Regions from separate parts of the Homo sapiens genome. Here region 1 is linked to region 2. The links come from fine-mapping of genetic effects on gene expression. A gene starts in region 2. The other region holds a variant in brackets. All regions are shown on one strand. Distances are from middle to middle.

The links. PIP is the estimated chance that this variant, and not a neighbour inherited with it, causes the effect.
Region 1: its variant is the best candidate, but not a certain one, in a credible set for the expression of DDX1 in esophagus mucosa (GTEx, PIP 0.74).

The regions. Positions count from the first base shown.
Region 1 is chr2:15,640,681-15,643,589 of GRCh38, reverse strand. No RefSeq gene overlaps it. Among named protein-coding and RNA genes, the nearest start is that of LINC01804, 49 kb to the left of the region's middle. The variant C/A (reference allele first, on the strand shown) is at 1,243.
Region 2 is chr2:15,590,190-15,593,094 of GRCh38, reverse strand. It overlaps DDX1 (DEAD-box helicase 1), which reads right to left and starts at 1,227. Exons shown (of 26, transcript NM_004939.3): 1 at 1,146-1,227. The coding sequence starts at 1,161. LOC124905975 (a long non-coding RNA gene) reads left to right here and starts at 1,326. Exons shown (of 2, transcript XR_007086224.1): 1 at 1,326-1,635; 2 at 1,763-2,905. RefSeq lists an enhancer at 1,129-1,188.

The DNA of each region.
Region 1 (2,909 bases), 50 kb before region 2:
AACTGGTTAAAATACATGTACCAGTTCATCACTTTCTATGGGAAAAAATATTATTTTATTCATTTTATGATATGAAAATTAGAGATTGTTCATGTTAAAGTAGAATTCAAGCTTGTATTTCTTTATTTTTAATTCCAGCTCCACCCCCCATCATCATACTGCCTTAACAGCAGCGGGGAGGGCTGTGGGTGATCAGGGATTCCTCCCTGTCTTCCTGCCACAGAGCCTGAGTAGATCAAAAGGCCAAGAGCATGAGGAGACTTTGCTCCTTCAGAATCGCTCCTTGGCCCCCTGAAATGAATGACCAGCTTTAACAGACTTTTCCCCCCCAGCTCACATTCCCCATGGTTGGTGAGGCAGAAAATTCACAAGAACAAAGCTCTTGCCCTAGAAAGATCTTCTTTTCAATTTAGGGTCAATTCCACTTTGGGGACTTCCAGAAGAGTCACCTTTAAATTAAGAAAAGAGAAAAAGAAGCTGTTGCATATAAGCCAGGGAAAACCACACACGAATGTGAACAGCACCCGCGTTCCACCCAGCAGCACGGATTTTTTGTGGGAAACTTATACAGAGCCCCGTAAGCCTCCAAGGAGGTGAGAGTCGGGAGGCGGGGGACGGGCAGAAAGACGTTGGAGTCCAAGAAACTGGATTCATTTTTCTACCGGCTGTGAGTAGGGCAACTTCTAAGGGCCTCATCTTGTCCTTCTGGAAAATGGGCAAGCAGCCTGCACCCTGCTGTCCTCACGCAGCCATTGTGAGGCCAAGAAGAGATGGCATTTGGTGAAGGGTCTCTGTCCTCCCCTGCCCCCCAGGACAGCTGGCCATGTCACTCCAGCCTGAACATGTGGTGGCATCCTGCTCTAGAATCTACCTGGGCTCACCTTCTCCCAGCCTTTCAGGACATATTGACATGCACTTGGGTTAATGAAAGTCAACATTCTTTACATTTCACCCCTTGTGAAATATCAGGAAGCTAGGCTCCATGTGGTCTGGCTCAGCTGGGAAACCATCGCTGAACCCTTGTTCTATCGGTCTGCGGACACGATTCAGTGTCTTGAGCTCTGTGGGATCAGCTGTCCCTCTGAGCTGAGCCAGCCCTCCCGTGAGTGGTGTTCAGCCTCCGGGGCCCGGGACCGGGAACAAGGGCAGACCAGCCTGCAGTCTGCATCCAGCGGCCAGGTCAAGGTGATCGAGTTTCTCTCTCCAGTCACAAATTCCATCACCCCTGGCTCCAGGGTAATA[C/A]ACTCAATCTCAGGGCTTGAGCTATAACACGGTTCATTTCTGGGCCAAATCTCTGAAGCTGAAGGGTTTATTTTTAAGGACAAGCAGTTTGCTGTTTTCAGCTTTTCTCATCAGAAATAGTGCAATTCAGCTTGATCTGCATTGGAAGCATAATTTATCATCTCACACAGATGGTTGCTAAGGGTGGGGAGGAGGTTTACTTTTCATTTTACTTCAGCAAATATTTCCTGAGCCCCTACGTGTGCCAGGCACAGAGCAAAGCACTGGGGATGCACACATGAGTAAGACAAGCTCCTGATCCTTGACACACTCCTAGTCCAGGTGAGAGACAAAGCTACAACCCCAGATTTGACATTAGACAGTCCTGCTTTGGAATCTTGGCTCTGCCATTTGCTATTGGAGTCACCTTGGGAAAATTACCTCACCTCTTTCTAGCTAAAGGTTTGTCAGCTTTGTTGATCTTCTCAACATACCAACCTTTGGTTCTGTTGATTTTCTCAACTGTTTTTCTATTCTCTATTGCATTAATGTTTGCTCTAATCTTTATTATTTCCTTCCTTCTGCTTGCTTTGGGTTTAGTTTGTTCTTTTTTCTTTCCCCCAGTGCTTTAAGGCGGAAGGTTAGGTTATTGATTTGGGATCTTTCTTCCTTTGTAATATAGTCATGCATAGCTATACATTTCCCTCTAAGCACTGCTTTACCTACTCCCATAAGATTTCCTATGTTGTGTTTCCCTTTTCATTTATCTCAAAGTATTTCCTAATTTCCCTTGTGATTTCTTCTTTGACTTATTGGTTGTTTAGTAGTATGCTGTTGGTTTTCACATATTTGTAAATTTCCCAAAGTCCTTTCTGTTATTGACTTCTACACATAGGGTCTATCCTGGAGAATGTTCCATGTACACTTGGGAAGGATGTGTATTCTGCTGCTCGTGGGTGGTATGTTCTACAGATGTCTTTTAGGTCTAGTGAGTCCACAGTGTTGGTCACGTCTTCTGTTTTCTTATTGATCTTCCGTTTGGTTGTTCTATCCATTATTGAAAGCAGTGTATTGAAGTCTCCAAGTATTATTGTTCAATTGTTACCTCACCTCTTTGAATCTGTTTCCTTCAAGTAAAATAAATATTCCTGACTTGCAGAGGAGATGGAGTGCAAAGCCCTGAGGCACAGCCTGCCTGCCACCTGTGGATGTTGCTGCTGTGTCTCAGAAAGAATTGACAGAGTGTAGGACAGCAGTGGTGAGGAGATTTCCTTCTAAAGTAACCAGTTGTCCTGGGTTAAGCTAGTACTGCTTCAGCCTGAAAAACACAAACCCTGTTTAAAGAGAAAGACAAGGCTTAGAACCTGTCTACTTCTGTGGCCTAATTTTCAGGATGTGCAGATCTCCTGCCCAAAAAATACAAATTAACTAGCTGACAAATCGTAACTTCTCACCCTAATTATGCTAGCTGGTGTCTAAAATTCCTTCACAAAAGTTTCTCGTGATAATTTACCTGTCCATCCATCTAAACTTCCCTCCAACTCAACAAACATTTACCAAATCACCTTTTCTCAGCCAGATCTGCCTCAGGTACTGAGGATACTGAAACCAGACCTGTCCTAAACACCCTACTCTATCCAGAAAGAGACACTGAGGGAAATTTTATTATGTATTTGTTATTTATTATT
Region 2 (2,905 bases):
ACAAAAATGAGCAGGGCATGGTGGTAGGCGCCTGTAATCCCAGCTACTCAGGAGGCTGAGGCAGGAGAATTGCTTGAACCTGGGAGGTGGAGGCTGCAGTGAGCCAAGATCACACCATTGCACTCCAGCTGGGGCGACAGAAGGAGACTACATCCCCCCACCCCCCCATTCTCCCCCCCAAAAAAGAAAAAAAATATCTTACATGACTGGAGATATGGAATTCCTAATATTCTTACAGAAGAAAACTAAAAAATATAAAATACTACATCTGAAGTCATCTTAAAAAGTTAATAACATTAAAGGACATTAGGCCTAACGTGATACATTTATATAGCAATAAACGTTACATAAGTGCTACATAAATGTATCACGTTTAGCGCATTTAAGGCTGATTACAGCTTCCTAAAACTGGATGCCTAACAGGAGGATGATAAAGCAAGAGGCGAAAATATCAACTGTAGGGTTCGATAAGCCATATCAAATCATATTTGGAATAAAGGAGGGTAGCAGACGGCAAATAAATATGAATTTTCCAAACTTATGTTGGACTGGTGCGTACGTTAATGAAAATGCTTTCCCTTTAGCTTCAACACTGAACATTAATGTTGATATAACAACGTTTAAGAACAAATAAAGATCAGGTTTATGCCTGGGACGTTTTGGAAGGGCCTGAAAAAACTGGACAGAGGCAGGATCGTCATTTTTCCCCAATGACTCCTCCCCACGCCGTCTCGCCTCTCTGCCTGGCCAAGCCCAGATGAGCCGCGGGCAGAAAAGGGTTCCCAAAGGGTCACTGCCACGTTAAGAGGCAGGAGGCCCAGGCGTCTGGGAGCCGCCAGAGCAACGCCGCCGCCTAGATTTTGCAGCCGAAGGTGCACTGGCAGGAAAGCCAAGTGGAGACTGGTAGAAGGGAAAGGGCAGGGGGAGGGACGTTCCGGCCCGCTCCTGGGAAGAATCGTCCTCCGAACCCGAGCCGCGGCCGCCCCTGATCCCGCAACGCGGGTCCATCAGGGACTGCAGCGGACAGCGCCCTTCTGTCTCCCTGACCCCTGTCCGCTCCCGCCCCTTTAGCTCTCCGCGGGCGGCCCCAGGGCTGAGGCGTGCAACAAGCCGCCCCACCACCCCCAGAGTTTCCACAAACGCACCGGAGAAGGCCGCCATCTTCACCCCGTCCTCCGCGGCTTCGCCTGCTCGCTCCCTCCCTCCCGACTGACACGGCGTGGCAGTGGCGGCGCGCGCTTCCGGCCCCTGGTCTTCGGCGTTCGGAGTCCGGGCAGGGACTCAGCCCCGGGAGAACGGTTCCGATGGAAGGAAAGGCCCGCGCCGGCCCCGCCTTATGCGCCTGCCGCTGAGCGGACCTCTGGGACCTAGGGCTTCTGGACGCCGCCTTCGTTCTGGGCACCATGTGTTCGGAGCACACCACGCGGTATCAGGGTCACAGCTACAGAGAAGGAAGCAGATGTTTGGTGATTAGGGTCATCCAGTGGGCTCAGGCTGACACCACACCGTGCCCTCCCCACTCAGTCCCCCAGCTTTCCAAAGGTGAGCAGGGCCTTGGTGTGTGAATGACCCGGAGAGATGGACTGGATTCATTGCCCTGAGCACCAATGCCAGTGAGTGCCTGGCAGCCAGTAGGTATTTGTTACATTTTTTTTTTAAACTAAGTAATGATTTAGGTCTCCCTCCCTTCACCCATGTTTGATGTCGCTTTTATAATTTCGGGTTTGACTTCCATGCAATTTTAACTCCTTTCTCTTTGCAGAGAGATGGGGAAAGTAAATGAGGAATCCTCCCAACCAGACACTCACTCTGTCAGGAAGGTATTAGAATCTTTAGATGAGGACTCTAAAATTCGGGAAAGTTAAGTCACTTATCTAAAGACACATATCTACCGAATGGCAGCGTGGGATCTGAGCCACATCTGCGCAATGCGAGGGCGCGTGCTGTGCTATCTGTAGCCTGCCCCAGAGTGTCATGGAGAAAAGTGGAACCCTCAGGCAAGATAGAATAGGGTTGCAGCGGCCGGGCGCGGGGGCTCACGCCTGTAATCCCAGCACTTTGGGAGGCCGAGGCAGGCGGATCACGAAGTCAGGAGGTCGAGACCATCCTAGCTAACACGGTGAAACCCCTTCTCTACAAAAAATACACACACACACACACACACACACACACACAGAAGAAGCCGGGTGTGGTGGTGCATGCCTGTAGTCCCAGCTACTCGGGAGGCTGAGGCAGGAGAATCGCTTGAACCCAGGAGGCGAAGGTTGCAGTGAGCCGAGATCGCGCCACTGCACTCCAGCCTGGGTGACCGAGCGAGACTCCGTCTCAAAAAAAAAAAAAAAGAAAAAAGAATAGGGTTGCAGCTACTCCGGAGGCTGAGGCATGAGAATCACATGAACCTGGGAGGCGAAAGCTGCAGTGAGCTGAGATCGTGCCACTACACTCTAGCCTGGGCGACAGAGGGAGAGTCTGTCTCAAAAAAATAAAAAATAAAAAAGATAGAATAGGGTTAGAAGTACAGAGTTGGGAACCATATTCTGAGTTTGGATTCTAGGTCTGCCACTTGCTTGCTGTGTGACCTTGAACAAGTCATGAAGCTTCTTTGGGCTTCAGTTTACTTACCTGTGAAATAGGGATGAACAATAGTACCTTTCTCATATGATAGTTATGAGGATCAAATAAAATACATAAAGCATCTAAAATAGTGCATAGCACATGGTGACAATATAACTAGCTCTGTTATTACTATTACATGTAACAGGATTCACCTGAAGCTCCAAAGGCCCAGGACAATACACTCAGCCCTGCAGCTTTACACTTCCAGGGGGCACTATTCACATTATATTCTCTATTCTTGTTATATTTTGTCTAAATAAGACCCTGAGAGTTATGCAGTGTACCAGTT